2 separate regions of the Homo sapiens genome follow, and region 1 is linked to region 2. Evidence: fine-mapped expression QTL. A gene starts in region 2. The other region holds a variant in brackets. All regions are shown on one strand. Distances are from middle to middle. Region 1 overlaps PDK1 (pyruvate dehydrogenase kinase 1). Region 2 holds the start of RAPGEF4-AS1 (RAPGEF4 antisense RNA 1).

The links.
Region 1: its variant is fine-mapped to the expression of RAPGEF4-AS1 in prefrontal cortex (GTEx, PIP 0.98).

What each region holds. Positions count from the first base shown.
Region 1 is chr2:172,575,676-172,586,665 of GRCh38, reverse strand. PDK1 (pyruvate dehydrogenase kinase 1) reads right to left here. Exons shown (of 11, transcript NM_002610.5): 9 at 278-388. Among named protein-coding and RNA genes, the nearest start is that of PDK1-AS1, 25 kb to the right of the region's middle. The variant G/C (reference allele first, on the strand shown) is at 4,986.
Region 2 is chr2:172,730,131-172,741,120 of GRCh38, reverse strand. It overlaps RAPGEF4-AS1 (RAPGEF4 antisense RNA 1), which reads left to right and starts at 4,915. Exons shown (of 4, transcript NR_026995.1): 1 at 4,915-4,995; 2 at 5,660-5,826; 3 at 6,688-6,816. RAPGEF4 (Rap guanine nucleotide exchange factor 4) reads right to left here and starts at 5,276. Exons shown (of 31, transcript NM_007023.4): 1 at 5,073-5,276. The coding sequence starts at 5,137.

The DNA.
Region 1 (10,990 bases), 150 kb after region 2:
CATATTTCAAAATGTGGTTTTACACAGGAAAACTACTGCTATATCACGATCAAACTTTGTAACAAGAACTCCAAATCTCTGTCTCGTGCCCATTTCAGTTGGAAAAAAAAAAAAGTATTCTGAAGGCTGTTTAAATTTAGGGGAAAGTGTGCATTTCTAAGAGCTTCTTTCTTCCTTGTGGAGTACCCTACATGACGGCTTAACTTACTTATTTGGCAGCTACAGCATGTGGAAGGCAATTCACAGAAACACACTTCATTATTTCTTGATAACATACCAGAGGCACTGCGCGGGAGGTCTCAACACGAGGTCTTGGTGCAGTTGAATACATGTAGTTGAAAAGTCTGTCAATTTTCCTCAAAGGAACGCCACCTCCTCGGTCACTCATCTAAGGTAAGAAAAGGATCGTGCTCTATGCCCAAATCCTCAAAACAGCAAAATATCAACACATACTCATAGCATCACAGTTTAACTGCTGGTGGGAGAGCGCTTTTTTTTTTTTTTTTTGAGACAGAGTCTCGCTTTGTCGCCCAGGCTGGAGTGCAGTGGTGCGACCTCAGCTCACTGCAACCTCTGCTTCCCGGGTTCATGCCATTCTCCTGCCTCAGCCTCCCGAGTAACTGGGACTACAGGCGCCTGCCACCATGCCCGGCTAATTTTTTTTAGTAGAGGCAGGGTTTCACCATGTTAGCCAGAATGGTCTCGTTCTCCTGACCTCATGATCTGCCTGTCTTGGCCTCCCAAAGTGCTGGGATTATAGGCATGAGCCACCGCACCCAGCCTGAGTGCTGCTTTTGAAAATGAATACAACACAATCCAAGTTGCCAATATAAGCATTTCCCTCGCTGTTGAACCCAACCCAACTCCTCTAATATGTGAAACTCTAATACATAAACTCCATCATAATACTGCTGTGGCTTTGTATATTTCCGGGAGTCTCATTAACAGTGCATTATAGCACAGAACTGGGCACAAGTTAACCCTATCTTGTATGTAACTATAAATCTGTTACTCCTTTCTGGTGGGCAGCATGGTGACTAGAAGCAAATTAAACATGCACACCTGTAATCCCAGCACTTTGGAAGGCAGAGATGGGTGAATCACTTGAGGTCAGGAGTTCAAGACCAGTTTGGCCCACACAGCGAAACCCCATCTCTACTAAAAATATAACAATTAGCCAGGTGTGGTGGCACATGCCTGTAGTCCCAGCTACTTGGGAGGCTGAGGCAGAACAATTGCTTGAACCCAGGAGATGGAGGTCACAGTGAGCCAAGATCGTACCACTGCACTCCAGCGTGGGTGACAGAGCAAGACTCCTTCTCAAAAAAAAAAAAAAAAAAAAAAAAAAATTAAAAATGCATGTACTAGGCTGGGCATGGTGATTCACGCTTGTGATCTCAACACTTTGGGTGACTGAGACAAGAGAATCACTTGAAGCCAGGAGTTTGAGATCAGCCTGCACAACAGAGTAAGACCCCATCGCTACAAAAAATTTTCTAAAATTAGCTGGGCATGGTGGCATACAACTGTGATCCCAGCTACTTGGGAGGCTGAGGAAGGAGTATCACTTGAGCCCAGGAGGTGGAGGCTATAGTGAGGTATGATGGCACCACTGTACTCCAGCCTGAGTGACAGAGGGAGCCACTGTCTCTAAATTAAGAAAACAAAAACAAACAAAAAAAGAAAAGCATATATTGGGTGGGTCTGGTGGCTCACACATATAATCCCAACACTTTGGGAGGCCATAACAGGGGGATCACTTGGGCCCAGCAGTTCCAGACCAGCCTGGGCAGTATAGTGAGACTCCGTTTGTACAAAAAAAAAAAAAAAAAAAACTTTAAAATTACCCAGATGTGGTAGTGCATGCCTGTAATCCCCAACTACTTGGGAGGCTGAGGCAGGAGGATCACTTCAGCCCAGGAGTTCGAGGCTGTAGTGAGCTATGATCTCACCACTGTACTCCAACCTGGGTGACAGAATAAAACCCTGCCTCTATTTAAAAAAAAAAAAAAAAAAAAAAGCATGTACCTTTCACACAACAATGTCACTTCCAGAAATTTATCCTGAGAAAATAAGCAGAAAAGCATGCAAAGTATATATGAGAACATCCATCACAGCTCTATGCAGAATACCTAAAAGTAAACAACCTAAATAGGGGATTAGTTAAGTAAAAGAAAGTACATTCTAAAATAGAATATTGTTAACCATTAATTAGATATTATATAGAACTCCATATACTGGCATAAGAGATAGTTAAGCAGCAAAAAAAACCAACCAACAAACAAAAAAAAAACAGTTACAAAGAAGCATTTATAATACTCTGCAAAAATTCTATTATAAAAAGGTCTGAAATGATATCTAATTTTATTGTCTGTAGAATGAGTAATTTTCTCTTCTTGTTTGGGGTTTTCAGTTTCTGAATTTTCTTCACAATTACTTTAACAGGAAAAAAACAGTATAATTTTCATTTTCAGGGAGAAAAAGACAGAACCACTACTTTGTATTTCCATCTACCAGCAATTTTACAGCCTAGAACCCCAGAAAACTTTCTGATATGTTCGTAAGGCATGTAGGTCTTTACATTTTCATATCATTTTTCAACTCAAACAGTATGGCAAATCAAATTTAGTAATTTATTTACATACAATTTTTCTTTTCCTTCAAAGTTAACATGGACTTATTTTCCTAGCTACTATCCAGCTTATATTCTAATCTACTACAGCCATTTTCCTTTGTCACAGAATCTGAATTGATTTTACTGCCTATAACAATATAGTTGTCATACACAAACAAATCTGCTTTTAATTTATGTATATATAGATTAAAATAGTACTGAATAATATGTATTAAAAGTCAATAGGCTGAATGGCTTATAGTTGAGTTTTTATATATTTAAAAATTGTTACAGTATATATATATTACCTTTATAATGGTAATTATGTAGATATTTTGATTTTTATAACTAAAAAAATCTGCCTTGAAATACCATTGAAAGATGTGCCTCGAATACATCTAAAATTAAGTAATTACACTATCAATAATAAAGTATACAAGGACTTTATTAGGAACTTGTGGCTGGGTGTGGTGGCTTACACCTATAAACCCAGCACTTTGGGAGGCAAGGCCGGCGAATCACTTGAGGTCAGCAGTTCGAGACCAGCCTGGCCAACATGGCAAAACCCTGTCTCTACTAAAAATACAAAAATTAGTCAGGCGTCATGGTGCACGCCTGTAATCTCAGCTACTCGGGAGGCTGAGGCACAAGAATCTCTTGAATCCAGGAGGAGGTTGCAGTGAGCCAAGGTTGTACCACTGCACTCTAGCCTGGGTGACAGAGCGAGACTCTGCTCAGTAAAAAAAAAAAAAAAAAAAAAAAAAAAAAAACCAGAAAACTTTTATGCAGCATTATGCTTGAAATTGCTCTTGGCCCTGTAAAGTAATTTATTTTAGTAAGATGAATAAAGAGCTCTGGGTATTTTGAGAAATCCATCAATTTGTTAATTACTCATCCTTTAATTCAATGCTCTGCTGCACATTTGCTAGTTAACATGAATAGGAAGTATGTGTATTCTATAAATACATGAAGGGAGTAAAGAACATATTAGAATAGATACTAAGATAAAAAGGTAGACTTGAGTAAATATTTCCTGGTTTTCCTTAACCTTTTGGCCACGGAGACTGTAACAACAACCTAGCAAGTACAAAATAAGAAGTCATTTCCAGCCTCAGGCTGCATGGGAAAATAAGAGGGGATAAGCAGACAGGACAGAGAGGATGTGAGAAGCATCATGTTGCTAGAGGTAAAGGGCAAACTAAGCCACAGGAATAGAGTTAGAAACTACAGTCAAAGTAGTACTTTGCTTTGCAGCCAACAATACAATAAACTGGAGCCAGTGGATTTTAAAGTAGGCAAAAGAGTTTCCAAAAGAGCAGTAATAGATTATTGGAGGATCCAAGTTCTTCAGGAAAAGGGAGGGAGGGAATAATGGAGAGACAGATATTTAGTCTGTATATATTCAAGGCAAGAAGAATGGTACCTTTGATGACAAATGTATTGAAAGAGAGATGTGAAAACTAACACGAAACCTTATTAAGATAATGAGATAAGTAATGTCAACAGGAAGGCCAAGGAAGAGAAGTTTGCCAATTATTTTTAAAGTTTTCTCTTCAGTGCACAAAAGCACCACTTGTCAATGTCATCTAACCAAGAGCTGCCATCCCTAACTTCCTATTCCCAGTAACACTAGGCTCCCTAGGTTAATTCATGTGAACTCTAGGCCCAGATGAAATGAACCACTACTGACTAGATGACAGCTCTAAAGCCAGGACATTCCCTGTATTCACCCAGAGTTCCTAAAGTTTCTTAGCCAACAGCGTTTTCACTGTTAAGTCTGTAAAATCATCAACAGTAAATGAACCAAGACATTTAAGTTTTAATTTAAATGACATGTAGGCCAGGCGCTGTGGCTCATACCTGTAATCCCAGCACTTTGGGAGTCTGAGGTGGTCAGATCACTTGAGGTCAGGAGTTCCAAGACCAGCCTGGCCAACATGGTGAAACTCTGTCTCTACTAAAAATACAAAAATTAGTCAGGTATGGTGGTGCGTGCCTGTAATCCCCACTACTCGGGAGGCTGAGACAGGAGAATTGCTTGAACCCGGGAAAGAGAGGTCATGGTGAGCTGAGATTCTGCCACTGCATTCCAGCCTGGGTAACAGAATAACACTCCATCTATAAAAAAACACACACACACAAAAAAAAGACATGTGGCTATAACACATAGGTTATTTATAGATTATATACTAAACACAGAATTGAAAGAGCAGCTAGGGCTGTAAGACAGAAACAACAACTTTTGTATAGGATTTTTAGCAAGAGGATAAAAGGTAAAAAATGTCAATAATTTGAACAAGCTAAAAAAAATGGGGAAGAAACAAAACCAAGCCTTGATTCTAAAAGTCTAGGGTAAGTAATGGGGATCAAA[G/C]CTCGACTGAAGAAAAAGCAAGAATTCAACATGTAAAGAGAGGCTGCAAGAGGAGATGCCTTCATGTGACCTTGGATGTGAGGAGCAGAAACAACAGGTGAAGGCAGAGCCTAATACAGACAGGACTTCTAGAACAGTCTTTTTGAGACCTTTACAAGCCTTTCTATTTTATTTTAAACAGCTTTATTCAAATATAATTAACATAGCAGGCTTCTAGAACACTCTTTTTTGAGACCTTTACAAGCCTATTTTATTTTAAACAGCTTTATTCAGATATAATTTACATAGCAGGCTGGACGCAGTGGCTCATGCCTGTAATCCCAGCACTTTGGGAGGCGGAGGCAGACGGATCACTTGAGGTCAGCAGTTCGAGACCAGCCTGGCCAACAAGGTGAAACCCCATCTCTACTAAAAATACAAGAATTAGCCAGGTGTGGTAGCAGGCGCCTGTAGTCCCAGCTACTAGGGACTGAGGCAGGAGAATCGCTTGAACCTGGGAGGCGGAGCTTGCAGCAAGCTGAGATCATGCCACCGCACTCCAGCCTGGGCAACAGAGGGAGACTCCATCTCAAAAAAGATAAAAATAATTTATATACCATATAATTAATGCACTTAAAGTATATAATTGAATGGTTTTTAATATATTCATCGATATGTGCAACCATTACCACTGTCAATTTTAGAATTTTTCATCACCTCCAAAAGAAACCCTAGCTCCTTTAGTGGTCATATCCCTAGGCAACCACTAATCTACTTTCTGTCCCTATATATTTGCCTATTCTGGACATTTCATGTAAATAATATCATATAATATGTGGCCTTTTGTGATTGGCTTCTTTCACTTAGCATAATGTCTTCAATGTTACAACAACCAGTTTGTAGCATTTATCAGTATTTCATTCCTTTTGTGGCCAAATAATATTCCACTGTATGGACATACCACATTTTGTTTATCCATTCATTAGCTGATAGATATTTGGGTTGTTTCTACCTGTACACTATTGTGAATAGTGCCACTATGAGTATTTGTGTGTAAGGTTTTGCCTAAATATTCTCAATCCTTTGAGGTATAGACATAGGAGTAGGATTGCTGGGTCATTATGAATTTTTCTTTACATCATAAAGACAGATTCCTGAGGTTAAGCCCATCCACCAGCACAGAAGTAATCTCTTCTGAGAGTCTAAGAACTCAGTAAACCTTGATCTATGCAATGACGGATAATAGCAATAGAAAGCAGCTGCAGACCAAAATGCTAAATAAAGCACTTCTAATAGAAGCAGAAAAAGGTACAAGAAAGAACATGCTGCAGCACAACTTAAGCCCCAAACCAGAAGACCAATGGGTCTTTTCTTGACTGTAAACCTTAACGGGAAAGTAGCTGACACACAACTAACCAAAAAATAGACACATTAGCATCTGAGCTAAAAAAAAAAAAAAAAAAGTGATACATTCATATTGTTTTTACAGCAAACAGATGGCATCGCCATTTATTGACTTTTTTGTGCCTATCTCTTTAAAATGAACAAACGAGAGAGAAACGGACAAAAGGAAACTCAGGAAACGGACAATGCAGGGTACAGAGGCAAATTAATTAAAAAAAAATAATATCCTTAGAGCAATAAAATAAAACTAGAGCAGAATTCTAAAAAGGGATTAATTTTAAAAATAAGGATTCTTGGAAATTTGTAAGATAATGGAAATAAAAGTTCAATAGAAGGGCTGGGAATCTGAAGTCAAGGAAATCTCACAGAATAGAATAAAAAGTTGAAGCGATAAAAAACAGGGAGTGATGTCATGAAGCCCAACATCCTCTTAATATGACTATCAGAAAGAGACTAAACACACAGTGAAAAGGAAAATATCAAGAAAATAATGGGAAGTTCAAAGACCACAGCCCAGTAAGTAAGAAAAGGCCCACACCAAGTCACATCACTGAAACTTCAGAGCACAGCTTAAAAAAAAGAAAAAAAAAAAAGTTAAAAACTCTAGTTAAACAAAAGTAGACACCTAAAACTGGTCACATAAGAAGGAAGAGGAATTGTAATAAACGTTGTCTTCTCAAAAAGAACAGCAGGAGTGACATCAGCAAAAATAGAAGAGAAAGAACCTGCAAAAGTCTCTCCTCTATCAAAGCACCAAAAAAAAAAAAAAAAAGAAAGAGCGGGGGAGGGGGGTGCAAAAATCATTTAGAATCTACTTTGACAGAATTCTGGAAATTAACTAAAGGCATGCAGCAATCTGGGGAACATTTATTCAAGTAAAACAACTGAATCCGTATAAGAACAGTAAGCATTTTAACTTGCTCCCATCTGCTCCCCCTCCCTCCAATCAATATGCAATCAGAGTGAAACCAGCAGCCTGGTAGCTGCTGGGAAGACTGTATTTATTTGACCTGACTCTGAGCTCCCCAGTACAAAAGTCTTGCACCCCACCCCCATCCCTGGAAACATCTGTCAAAAACAATTAGAAGTAACTGATTAATTTGAGGGCTGCAGAAGAAACTGGACAACAGCTAGGGCAAACAATAAGGCTAACCAAAAAGCTTAACAGGAAGGTCTAGGGAATGAGATAGCCATAGGGGCTTTGAAAACCTCAGCTATCTCCTGGGAATCTGGAAGGCCATACTCATGCCCAGGGTCATGCTCAGGAAAGACACTGAGAAGGCCCTAAGCTCTCACCTCTAATTGCTCTATGCGAGCAGGACCTAAAGGTTAAGGCACAGTTGTTAACTGCCTGGCTGAGTGTTGAAGATATTCTCCTGAACACTTCTATACACACACAGAGTCCCTTGGCAAAGACTGGGAAACTTACTGATTCCAGGTATTTGAGGAAATCTCAGTCCAGTCATTAGCTGACCACTAAGCTAAATGAGCAGAGACTTCAGAAGCCACACACAACAAAGAATTCAAACTTAAAAGAATTAACTCCAAAAAAAAAAAAAATTACAAAACAACAACAAAGACAGCCTTGGGGAGACAGCAGTATCTGATCTGCAGAGCTGTCAAAATATATTATTTTAAATGTCCAGTTTTCTATAAAAATAACAAGATATGAAAAAAACAAAAAAGTATTGCCCATACACAGGCAAGGAAAAATCAGTCAATAAACTATACCTGAGTCAGTAAACTCACACTCCGTAAACAAACACTAAAGAACTAAAGTATAAGGATGTCTCAAAATAGAAAATTTTAAACGATACAACAATAAAATATAGGGCAATAAAATGATATGCATCAACATTTAGCAAAGGTGAAAAAAACAGGATAGATATTATATAAGAGAACTAAGTTGAAATTCTGGAATTGAGAAGTACAATAAATGAAATGAAAAATAAACGAAATGAAAATTTCACTAGAGGGGTTCAACAGCATATTTGAGCATGTGAAAGAAAAGAATCAGTGAGAGTGAAGACAGGTCAATTGAAATTATCCAGTCTGAGAAACAGAGAAATGACTCATCACATATGTGCAATATTCAATAAGATTGTAACAGCTGATTTCTCATCCAAACCATGGAGGCTGGAAGGCAGTGAGATAACATATTCCAAAGTGCTGAAAGAAAAAGACTATCAACAAGAATTCTATAACCAGCAAAACTATCCTTCAAAAATGAAGGAGAAATTAAGACATTTCCAGATAAGCAAAAACTGAGAGAGATGATCACTGACAGACATGGGCTATCAAGAAATACCAAAGGGAATCCTTCAGGCTGAAACAAAAGGATACTAGACAAAACATTGAATCCATGTTTAGAAATAAACAGTGCCAGTAAAAGTTATTACAAAAGTAAATCTAAAGGAAAATATGAGTATATTTTTTGTTTGTAACTCTTTTTGTGTCCTATCTGATTTAAAAGACAATTGAATAGAACAATAATTATAAATCTCTGTAGACAGGCACACAATGTACAAAAATGTATGTTATATGACAATAACAGCACAAAGGATGGGTGGGGAGGGGAAAAGGCCTATTTAGGAGAAAAGTCAGTGTATACTATTGAAAGCAAATTGGTATTAATCTGAACTAGATTATAAATTAAGGTGTTAATTGTAATCCCCAGGATAATTACTTAAAAAACTCAAAGAAATATAGTAACAAAAACAAGAACGAAATTAAAATGATATAATACAAAATATTTTAACAAAAGACAGTGATAATGGAGAAATAATAAAAAATGATATGACATATATTGAAGACAAAACGGCAAACATAAACCAAAATTACTGTTAATTACATTAATAGTAATTATATTAAATTTAATTGATCTGAACATTCCAATTAAAAGGTGGACATTGGCAGAATGGTTTTAAATTCTAACTGTATGCTATAAAGAGACACATTTTAGACTGAAAGGCACAAAGAGGTTTAAACTAAAAGTCTGGAAAGTTACACTATGAAAACAGAAACAAAAAGAGTTGGGATGGTTACACTAACTTCAAACAAAATATACTTTTAAACAAAAACTGTTATAAGAGACAAAATAGTACATTTTTTAATGATATAAGGTTAATACACAAAAAAGAGATAATAATTAAAAACATATATGTACTCAACAGAGCTCCAAAATACATGAAGCAAAACTGATGGAACTGAAGGGCGAAATAGACAATTCAACAATAATTGGAGATGACTTCAATACTCCACTTTCAACAATGGATATAACAATTACAAGATCAACAAGGAAAGACAAGCTTGTACAACACTGCAAACCTACTAAACCTAATAGCTATCTGTAGAACATTCAACAGCATCAGAATGCACACTTTTCTCAAGTACACATGGAACATTCTCCAAGACAGACCCTATGTTAGGCTGTAAAACAAATCTCAATAGATGTATACTTGAAATCATACAAAGTATGTTTCCAATCACAACAGAATGAAATTTAAATGATTAAGAGAACACATGGGAAATTCACAAGTATGTGGCAATTAAACAACACAATCCTATTAACCAATGGGAAAAATCCAAAAGGAAACTAGAAAATACTTTGAGATGAATGAAAATGAAAACAAAACATTAAAAACTTGTAAGATAGACAAAGCAGTGCTTAAAGTAAAATTATAGTTGTAAAATGTCTCAAATGAATAACCAAAACTTCCACCTTAAGAAACTAGAAAAACAGGAGCAAAATAACACCACAGCAAGCAGAAGGAAGGAAATTATAATAAAGCCTAGAGTGTAATTAATGAAATACAGAATAGAAAAATGGAGAAAATCAATGAAATAAAAAATTGGTTCTTTAGAAAGATTAACAAAATTGATAAGTATTTAGCTATATTGACCAAGAAAAAAAAAGAAGACTCAAATTTATAAAACCAGGAATGAAAGTGGGGACATCACTACCAATCTTACAAAAATAAAAAGAATTATTAGGGAATACTATGAACAATTGTGTGTAATAATTAGATAACCTAAATGAAATGGACAAATTCCTATAAAAACACAAACTATAGGCTGGGCGTGGTGGCTCATGCCTGTAATCCCAGAACTTTGGGAGGCTGAGGCAGGTGGATCACGAGGTCAGGAGATCGAAACCATCCTGGCTAACACGGTGAAACCCCATCTCTACTAAAAATACAAAAATTAGCCAGGCATGGTGGCGGGTGCCTGCAGTCCTAGCTACTCGGGAGGCTGAGGCAGGAGAATGGCGTGAACTCGGGAGGCGGAGCTTGTAGTGAGCCAAGATCCTGCCACTGCACTCCAGCCTGGGCGACAGAGCAAGACTCTGTCTCAAAAAACAAACAAAAAAACACACACAAACTATAGACACAGCTCAGGAGCTCAGGAAGAAATGGACAATCTAAATAGATATCAAATGTATTGTTTATATTTATTTATTTAATTATTATTATTTGAGACAAAGAGTCTTGATCTGTCACCCAGGCTAGAAAGCAATGGCACAATCTTAGCTTACTGCAACCTCTGCCTCCCGGATTCAAGTGATTCTCCTGCCTCAGCTTCTCGAGTAGCTGGGATTACAGGCACGCACCACCGTGCCTGGC
Region 2 (10,990 bases):
CTTCTCATTATCATCCAATTCCCAGGCTCTGTTGCTCTAGGAAGAGGATGTACTCCTGTACAGGCCAGAAGATGTAAGCATCCTGACCTCCTGGCAGCTTGGCTTCTCATTGTAAATGCAGAAAACGGACTTCTGAGAATAATTGGATTTCCCATATGGCTTACTTAGAGGAAGAATACATTAGCCAAAGGACGTGAGTGTCCACTTCTCTGATGTGACAGATCTTATTGTCAAATTAATAAACTGTCTTTCTGGCTTTTAGAGTCTCTGAGAGTCTGGTACCTGTGTATCTGTTGCTGAAAGATACATTAATTTTTGATGTGCTAACAAGTCAGTATTCTGAGATTGCAAGACCAGCCTGAGCCCTGGAGGATGTACCGGGGTAATGTCATCCCTTGGGACATGGCTAGTAGATACTAGCCTCCTCCAGGGACCCCTTTCTGCTCTGTGTGCTTCTTTGATCCTCTGCATTTCTCAAGGGTGGACCCATGTCTGATGCTTCTTTGATATCTGAGTTATCTTCTCTCACCATGTGTGCTACAAAGCATTTTGGTTCTTAACAAATTTGTTTCTTGATTTCTTTCACTCGAATTCAACCTAATCAAAATAGCTAAAATAACATCTATTTGGGGGCAAGTCAGATGGAAACTGTCCATGGAGTATTTTTAAACTGAAACACGAATACTTAAAAAAAATTCATCTGCTGCCTTTGAAAGATCACAACCTTTTGAATAACCATGTTAACTTCATCATCTGCTTTGGCTGTGACGGCCAGTGTTCCTCAAATAAGCCAATCAACTGAGAACCTTTCTCCAACCTATACTTCTAATTAAAGAACAAGAAACCAAACACTGTGAACTCCTTTCCAAATGAAAACGATTTCTTTCATCTCCAGTGGTTTCACTGTCAATCACTTAGATAGGTTCTTTCATCTATAACAAAAGATGGCAAACTTTTTCTGTAAAGGTCCACATAGTAAATATTTCAGGCTCTGTGGGCCCACAGTCTCCATTGCAGCTACTCAACTCTGCCACTGCAGCGGGAAAGCAGCTGTAGACAATATGTAACCAAATGAGCATGGCTATGTTCCAATAAAACTTTGTTTATAGACACTGAAATTTGAATTTCATCTAAATTTCATGGGTCACAAAATACTGATCTTCTTTTGATTTATTTCCAACCATTCAGGAATGTGAAAACCATTCTTAGCCCACGAGACATACGGGCAAGCTGTCAGATCTGGCCCACAGGCCATAGCTTGTCAATGCCTGTCCCATCATGATGAATGCCAGCAATGAGTCGCTATACTACATGAATGTGTATGGTCCCTGTCCCTTCATAATACTCCTTTACCAACCCTGAGAACTAGGACTTATAAGTGGATCTGAAGTTCACAGTTGGCAAATTTAAAATCTTACGGGAAAAATATTTTCATTAAAATTAAACAATGGGCCGGGTGTGGTGGCTCACACCTGTATTCCCAGCACTTTGGGAGGCCAAGGCGAGCGGATCAGCTGAGGTCAGGAGTCCAAGACCAGCCTGGCCAACATGGTGAAACCCTGTCTCTATAAAAATACAAAAATTAGGCAGGCATGGTGGTGTGTGCCTGTAATCCCAGCTACTCGGGAGGCTGAGACACGAGAATTACTTGAAACCAGGAGGGGGAGGTTGCAGTGAGTCAAGATCACACCGTTGCACTCCAGCCTGGGTGACAGAGTGAGACTCCATCTCAAAAAACAAAAACAAAAACAAAAAAACTTAAACAATGGTCAGCACACTTAAAAAAAAAAAAGAAAGGACATTTTACCTATCTTAAGTCCCAAATAGTGGGAACTATGTAATTTGTTCCTAGTTGCCATCCCCTCAGAAAAAAATGGTAAGATCCCTGAGATAGTGGTGAGCTTGTTTTACTCTAACAATACATCTGCTGAGACTTTTTTCAATGTTGGTTTATCCATCCAAATGTTCAATGTCCTGTCTTTCTGGTTTTAAGATTAGTATTTGTAGACCCTCATCTCCTCAGTCCCACCATAGTCCAAGATGGTGGATGATTGATACATAAAAAGCTATAGATTTTGTTTCTTTAATCTAATCTACATATCTACAACACTTGCAACACCCTTCCCCACTTGCAAATATTGTCCTGTCTATGATAGCTTTCTAGGCATTCCTAACAAACACTTTAAGGCTCTATTTTCCTTGTGTTTTGTTTCACTTCAAATTTCATTGTATACTTCTTTACTACTGCAGACTTTCTCTTTTAACTCTCTTTTTATTTCCAGTCCCAGGGTTTCTCTTTTTTTCACCATCCACAACAGTTGTCACTTGAATGAGGCATATATTTGAACTGTGTTTCCCAGTTACGTCCTTTTCCCAGTTGAAAGGTCCCAGCATCATATTCCCAAGTGAACCCACATGGGTTCATTGTACTTTCTCTTTTGTGCAGGGTTGAAAATGTCCATAATAAAAAAGATTTTATAAAAATAGAGCATACATTCCTATACTCTAGATTTGGTCACAAGAGGAATTTGTGGTTGGGAAGAAATTAGCATATTCATATGCCACACCACTCCCTGGCATGCCCTCCCTATTCTGTGCCTGGTAAAATTGTTCTCAGCCTCTGAGTTCTAGGCAGGACACCTATGGAAGTATCTCGATAACTCTCTCATCTGCATTCCCAAAGCACTTTATACATCTCCATTAAAGCACTTACTATTGCATTGTGGTTAGCTGTTTATAGAGCCGTCCCACCACCAATCTCCCCTACCCTCTAAGCCTACAAGCAACTCTCATATTTTGTTGCATCCCCAGTGCCCAGCACAGTGCCTGGAAAAGAAGATCAAGATAGCATTTAAAAGAGGATCAAGATAGCATTTCACAGTGCCTGGAAAAGAGGATCAAGACAGCATTTCTCAGAAACATTGAGGGCAGTGTCTCCACTAAACAGGTGTTTCAGGGGGCTTCCCTAGCCAACTTCCATAAACACTCTCAACCTTTCTCCTTTCCTAAAAAAAATAAATAAATAAACAATCTAAGTAAAAACACAACTTCAAAACAAGTCCCCCCATGGCCTTCATACAATGAGATTGCTGCCCTAAACTGTTCCTCATTGGAATTAATTCTGGCATGAACACTGCAGAACATGCAAAGTTCTTTTAATACCACAAAACAAAAAGCCTACATGGCACTCACAGTTTTCAAACTATTTCACCTTTTTTTTCTCCTTCCATTTGTCCACTTATCCCTGATAGTCCTATCCTCATTTTTCAGACACTCAAGGAAGTAAAAGTGACATGTCCAATATCAGAACTGGTAACAGCTCTGTGCCTAAAACCCTTAACTTATTGATCTATCCACTCATCTGACTCTTCTGATGCTAGGCTCAGTATCTGTGAAGGGTTTTTTTTTTTTTCCTAGATTTTTTTCCCATTATGAATGGTGGCATTAAATGGGGGCACCATGCTCTAAAAAATCCATTTCAAGCAAAATCATTTAGGCAGATACACATTATGAAAAGAGAGAGTCGAATATGTCCCACTTGTGTTAGTATTGCTCTATGATTTTGCCATAAGTACTTCTTATTGACTAACGGGTTTCCAGTGAATTACCGACTGTTCAAAAAATGCCATGCCATGCATTTCTACACATAGAAATATGTTATTATCTAAAAATTTTGCTCATAAGGAAGCACTACTATTTATAGGTTAAGTGCAAGATCCTGAATCCCATATAATTCCTTTTTCCTGAACTATTAAATGTAGATACTTATCACATTAACAACCTCTATACTTTAAATACTCTTAGTTCTTCTACATAATCCTGTGTGATTTAACTATTACTTTAATTCTCTTACTATTTATTGCATGCAACTCTTTTAATATTAGTACATATCATTTTAGACATAAATAGGGCACTACCTGCCAAAAAATCTTGCTACTGAGTGGTAATTGAAAGTCAAGATTATTTCTCAGATATATTAAGCTTTTCAAATGAGCTACATTTAGCTTTTCTCAAATTACTTAATATTTTTCAACAAAGGCCTATAATAGAGTATGCAAAGCACGTCACACTTAAGATTTTCAAGTTTGATCTGGTTACGAATCTGTTAATTGAAAATTTTTCAATATGGCAGAGCACAAAATATTTCACACAAATGCAAATAGAGATGTCATGCAGATAGCTGCAAGACGTGCATCATTGCCCTTCTGCATCAAACTCCGAAATTCAGAGGCAGTTCACTCTGCAAGATTTCTTGCTCAGTTCTTAAAAGTTCAGATGCATCACCTTTTAATCAGGGTAATAAGCTATAATTGCTAACATACTGTGTAACGTTTAAACCTGCAATCTGGACAAACAGAAAATTATGCTGTCACAGCCTGGAAACAACTGCAATCCACTGTTAACACACACATCCTCCTTAGAGAGAGCTGTCGTCGGGAGTTACATGCTTTATGGTTTTAATTATTTTTAGCGTAAAGATCTTTTCCCGAGAAGCAGGTATTAAGACGAAAGCAGCCTCCCAAATGACCTTCTCTAACACAGACCTTGAGCGAGCGACTGCGGGGGCAGAGAGCTGTGAATTTCAGCAAGGGATTCGACAGCTCCACCGGGTCCCTCACACTTTGCTTTCAAGAACAAAAAAAGAATGTTACTCTGCACCTGCCGGTGCCCCCACCCCTCTTTAAAACTTCATACCCCGCAAGGTCTGAATAGCCGGAAAGGGTATGCATCGATTCTTCTGTCCCGTGATGCCAAGAGAAAATAAACCCCCACCCAGGAGCGGAGCCTGGAGTCGCGGCAGGGCAGGGGGTTGGAGAGGTGGGTGCTCTCTCCCCTTACTGCGCTGCATTTTCTCCACCACGTGTAATAATCTCATGCCGCTGGCACCCCACGAGAGGCGGGGATCCTTGTCCTCCTGTCTCCCGGACGAGGACCTCAACCCCTTCCCCCGCTCGGGGACCCCGGCCACCCGCAGCCCGGCCGCGCTGCGCCCAGGTGCGGAGCTGCGGCGGTCTCAGGGCCCGGGCAGCACCGCAGAGCTCGGCCCCCGGCTGCGGCCCCCGGCGAGCTACCTTTTATCCAGGCAGGCGATCCACTCGGCAGAGGAGGAAGAATGGGCAGCGTGCGCAGCGACCATGTTGAGCGGCGGCGCGCGGTGTCCCTGGCTGCGGCGACCTCCCGCGCTCGCTCTGCCTGCGCCTCCGCCCCCGCCTCGTCCGCCGCGCGGACCCCGCTCCTCCCGGACGCCTGGCGACCAGCGCGGCTGCGACAGGCCCGCCCTCCCCGCGGGCTCCCGCGGCCTGGGGCGGTGGGGAGAGGGAGGGGACCCGGGGGGCGGGACGCGGGTGCGGGGAGGGCCGAGTCGCCCGCCCGCCCGCCGCTGCACTGCGGCGCCCGTGGGTGGGGATTCCGCCCCGGGGTGGGGACCCCGCGGTCCCGCTGCTGGGGGACACTGGGGGTGGCGACCCCGGTGGCCGGCCACCTGCGACAGGTGTCCGCTGCGTCCCTCGGAGACTGGGGCCCCACCCTCACCCCGGGGCCTCTGAGGCGGGGCGGGAGGGCAGGCGCCAAGGCAGAGTGGGGAGAGGGCTGCCAGTGTCTATATATTTTTCATACAGCAAATGCTACTAAAATGGCTGCTGCCTCTCTGTTTCCTTAGAAACCCATGAGTCTTCCTCAGCAGCTGTCGAAACTTGCCGGCGGTTGCTTGCTCACCTTTGCTGTCTCCCCTTCAGAAAAGGCTGGAGGGGAGGGCGAGGAAGGCTTGGCGTGGGGACGCCCGTCGAGTCTCTCAGTGAGGAATGAGAGGCCAGCTTCTCCTGCGGGGTGAGGAAGGGCTGGGCGCAATGGGGGGCAGTGCGGGCAGGGCTGAGGGGCAGGGAGGGAGGAGGCCGGTGGGCCCGATGTGGTCTGAGGGGGTGACAGGCTGAAGTCACTGGCCTTGAACCCTGGGCCTGCCTGGGCTTCCATCACCTGCATGGTGAAGAAAACACAGTTGAGAATGGGGAGTAGCCGGGCCACAGCAGAACCGAGACCCCGGACGCGCAGGTGAACTTGTATGGCTGGCCCCCTTGCTGTTCTTCCTCTGGCTGGAGTGTTGAATGGGTGGTGATAACGGCCTGTCTCTTGTAGATGTTCACACAAATGTCATGTCTACAAGTTATTCAGTTACACTCTGCCAAGAACCAAATTACACGCCAATGGTTGTTTAGGAATTTGCGGACAAGTTAAATGTTTTGGACTATTACCAAGCACTGTTTTGATATTTATGGCACTACATTTGGGGCCAGACAATGGGGGAAAGGGACATAGCATTGCTTTCTTCTACTGTTCCCTGCCTCCTCCCCCCACCAAACCTCCTATCCAACCCTGCTCAGGGGAGAGTCAGGGGGACTGGAGAGAAGGAAAGAGCAAGTGCTTTCTGGGATGCTTTGATCCTAATAAAACAATTATTACCATGATATAAAAGCCTCCAAATATGTGCCATTTCCCTCTGCTGGATAGCCAGGATCTAGTTTCAGACCTGCCACAGTGTTCCCACAGCAACTCCTCCCTCCCTGCTCAGGGCTTTTCCCCCAGTTAACCTTCATTCTGTTAATTTCTATCATGTTTATGCTAATATTTAAAATAATATACTATAGAAAGATTAACCAAAGGTATTTATGTTGTGGCTTTTTTACTATACAGGTATGAAGGAGGAACTGTATCTCCTATATATATTAAGTTTCATTTATAAAGACATCAGAGAGCACCTGAGAATGTTTCAAGGTCACCAAAAGCTTTCTGAAAATGCCTTTCTGCAAAGAAGGTTTCCAGGTAAGGAGCTAGAGGAGAAAGGAGCTGCACATCACCTGTCATCACACAGAGGCTCAGAGTTGCCATAGCTTTGGTTATGATACTAATAATAGTCGCCATTTATTGAACATCCACTGAGTGTTAGACCCTGTGCAGTACTCCTTACATGTGTGATCCCATTTAATCTTCAGAACACTCTATGAGGCAGAGCCAGAAAGACACTACTCCACAAACAGCAATAAATATCCTTGAAAATGTAGTGAAATATTGAAAATGATATGTATCAGTACTTTCAGGGAGAGTGTTAATTGGATTGGAAGGAAGACACTGATGAGCTGCTGGGAGTGAGAGTGAGACCCTCGAGGAGTCCACAGTGCATTTTAAGGAGTGTAGCTCTGATGAACTGCAAGGCCTTTGTTTTGCTGTGTGGGGGCCCTGCCTCTTCTCTAAAGAGAAGTTGAAGACTTATTTAAAGAACATCCTTTCGAAGGAGAACCAACAATCACTAGCTTGTCCAGAGCATGCTCATGTCTTCATCCAGCCCTGGAGGTAGGTACAAGTAACTCCAAGATACTCACTAAGACACTGAACTCAGGAAGGGTCCATAACCCAGCTACAGGAGATGGGGCCCCGGAGTGGAATTTGGGTCTGTCTGATTCCAAACCCTTCCACATCAGTGATGGTGTCCCTGTTTCTGCCAATAGAATGGGAGTATAGGGCATGTCTACAATGACTGTCCAGAGGGTAAGAACAAAATAGTTATAAATCAGTTTTTTAATGTAAAAATAGAGAAATGTGTGAGGAATTAAAAAACAGAGATCCTTAAAACATCAGGAATAGCTTTACTGTCCTATAGATTATCTTGTGATCTGAAAGGGATTTGATTGCTGGTCAAGAACTACAGGAGTAAAGGAAACTCTGTTGATAATTAGTTATTATAGTATTAAGAGGAAGAAAACAGGCTTTTGCTTGGATTGGATGGGAAAGGCAAAGAACCAAAGAATATTTATTCATTTCCCTCTCTTTAAAAGAACACAATATATGTCAGTCCCAAAAGAGCATATGTTGTATGATCCTATTTATGTGAAACTTCCAGAAAAAGCGAATCTATAGAGATGGAAAATAGATTAGGGATTGCCTAAGGCTGGGAGGTGGGAATAAGGGATGACTGCAGATGGGCCTGAGAAATCTTCTAGAAATGATCTAAAATTGAACTGTGGTGATGGATACACAACTCTATAAATTTAATAACAATCATCAAATGGTATAGTTAAAATGAGTGAATTTTACAGTATGCAAATTATCTCAATAAAAATGTTAAGTAAATAAAATATTAATAAACCTATATGGAGAGGAAAAATAATATGATTGATCTTTTGGGGGGAAACAGAGAAAAATATAGGAGAAAAAGTAAAAATTACCCATAATTCCATAACATAGAGGTAATACTGTTAATATTTTAGTGCATTTAATTCTAAACTTTTCTATTATGAAAAGATACAATCAAGGCCAAGCACAGTGGCTCACATCTGTAGTCCCAACAATTTCGGAGGACAAGGCAGGAGGATTGCTTGAGGCCAGGAGTTCAAGACCAGCCAGGGCAACATAGTGAGACCCCCCCCATCTCTACAAAAATTAAAAAAAAATTAAAAATTAGAAGTGATATGATCATACATGTACCCACAAACACATACATATAACTAGCTATGTGTATGTATATGTGTGCATATATGTATGTGTATAGATACATGTATTCAAACAGACTTGAAAGCATTAATAGTTTATAGGCTACTTTTTCTATTGGAATGGAAAAATGCTTTACTTTCCTTAAAAAATCCTTAAACATTTTTTCCTGGCCACCAAATATTCTAGTGTACAGTTATAATTTACTTACACTATCTTTTGAGACTTGTTTTTTCACTTGGAAAAGGTATTATCTGTTTAATCTCCTTCCTATAGTTTAGTGAATTCTTTCTCTACTAGAGAACTAAGATCTCTACTGAAGATCTCCATGAGACAAGGATGAGACAAGACCAATATCTGTTAATGCTATGTAGATCCTCGAATGAGTTGCTAAAATGTCTGATTTCCATTTTGTTCATCTGAGCAGAGGTTCAAAGTTAGGAATTTGAAGGCAGGCAGCCAAGTTCAAATTGCAGCCATATCTTCTACTAAATGTTTGGCCTTAAATTAACTACTTAGCCTAAGACTCCGTTTCATCATCTGTAGAGTGGAGAAATTAATAGTATTATACATGAATTTGGTATTTGTAAGATATTTAGCATAAGTGCCAAGCACATAGTGAGTGTTCAATAACTCTTAGCTATTATTCTCCATATAGTGCAAATAATACTAGGTGCTCTCTGCATTTCACAGGGACCTGGTGGTGATAAGCTGTCGAGATCACTTATGCTAAAGGGCTTCGACATCTATAAATTGCAAGTTTTGGCTATAAAGGATATGAGGGATGGGTCTCCTGAGAAACCCATAGAAATTCTCCAGGAAATTCTATCATAGATTGGGCATTCACTCATATCCGTATATGGGGAAAAATCTGATTCACCATGTTTTAGGTACCTCATTGGAAGGTAGGTTATAAAAACACATCTATCACTCCTGCTGGTGATATAACCAATTCAATGAAGACGCAGTATTCCTTCGGTGAAATCATAAAAGCAATTTTAATGTTTTATCTCACTGTCCTTTTAAACTTGCTCAGTGAAGGCAATTCTACCCCTGCCACTGGATATAGCTTGTTTGGTCACTTATAGGTAATAGAAAGTACCAGATTCTTTCTATTAGAATGCCCAAACCAATATATCACTACATATTTCAATCTTCATTTCAAAGAAAAGAACTCTGCCCTCCTCCCCAACCTACAGCTGGTCACAGGCAGGTCTCAGCCTTTAGGAGAGAAGACGTGGTCAGCTTCTCCTTTCCTTCCTCATCCCAGACCACCATGAAAGCTGCTGGTTTTGACCCTTCCAGAATCAGAGTAGGGAAGGGAAGAGAGAAAAGAAGGGGCAAGAAAGTTCTTACTTTACTGGGACAGTTGTAAGATGGCATTGTCTTTTCCAAACCTGGCTAATGTCAAACCTGCTCTTTATCTTGTGGGTGCCTTCATTTTTTCTTAGGTGCCCCTGCTGCTGGGCCCCCCACATAAGCAAGTGTCACTGGATTTCCTGAGTCCCCCTCCAAATTTCCTCCCTCCGTAGGACTCCCAATTTATCTTCCACCCACACCCCAGCTGTCTTCTTGAGCAGGATTTAAAGGGGCTCCAGGATCGTTCTCTTCTGTGTGTCCCACATTTGGTCCATAGGGACACTCAACACCTATTTTGCTCTAATAAACTCAGAGTGCAGACCAATCCTACCAACCGTGCAGCCTCTTCACTCGCCAAAGAGGCTCACCAATCCCTCTCTCCTGATCTGTAGGTTTCCAGGGCTGGAGTCAGACAACAATCCCCTATGCTCCCAACTTACAGGTTCTCTGAGTGGCCCACATGGAGAGGAAAAAATAGTATGAGAAATATTACTTTTCAAGACTTTCCATGACTAAAACAAGAAAATACTCCTGTTTTAGTCATGGTTCTCCAGAGAAATAGAACCAATGGATTATATATCTGTAACTATGTCTATATCTGTATCTATAAAAGGAGACTTATTATGAGGAATTGGCTCCCACAATTATGGAAGCTGAGAAGTCCTACCATATGCCATCTGCAAGATGGAAACCCAAGAAAGCGGTGTAATTCAGTCTGAATCCAAAAGCCTGAAAACTAAGGAAGCTGCTAAAAATCCCAATCCAAGAGCAGAAGACGAGATGTCCCCATGCTAGCAGTAAGGCAGGAAAAAAGGGGCAAATTTCTCTTTTTGTTCTGTTCAGGCCCCCCAACTAATGGGATGCTGCCTCCTTGAGGAGGGCAATCTACTGAGTCCACTGATTGAAATGCTGATCACATCCAGAAAAACCCTCACAAACACACAAAGAAACAGTGTTTAATCTGGGGACCCGTTGGTCCACTCAAGGTGACACATAAAATTAACCATTACAACTCCTCACAAAATCTTCCTTTAATTTCTCCTTCGTAGGCACTATTTCCCCCTTCAGGTGAGAAGTTTTAGACCCATGAAACTGGTCTTTAGTATTTTGATTGAAAGTTTGCATCTTGGCATCTCACTTTGGAATTTCATAG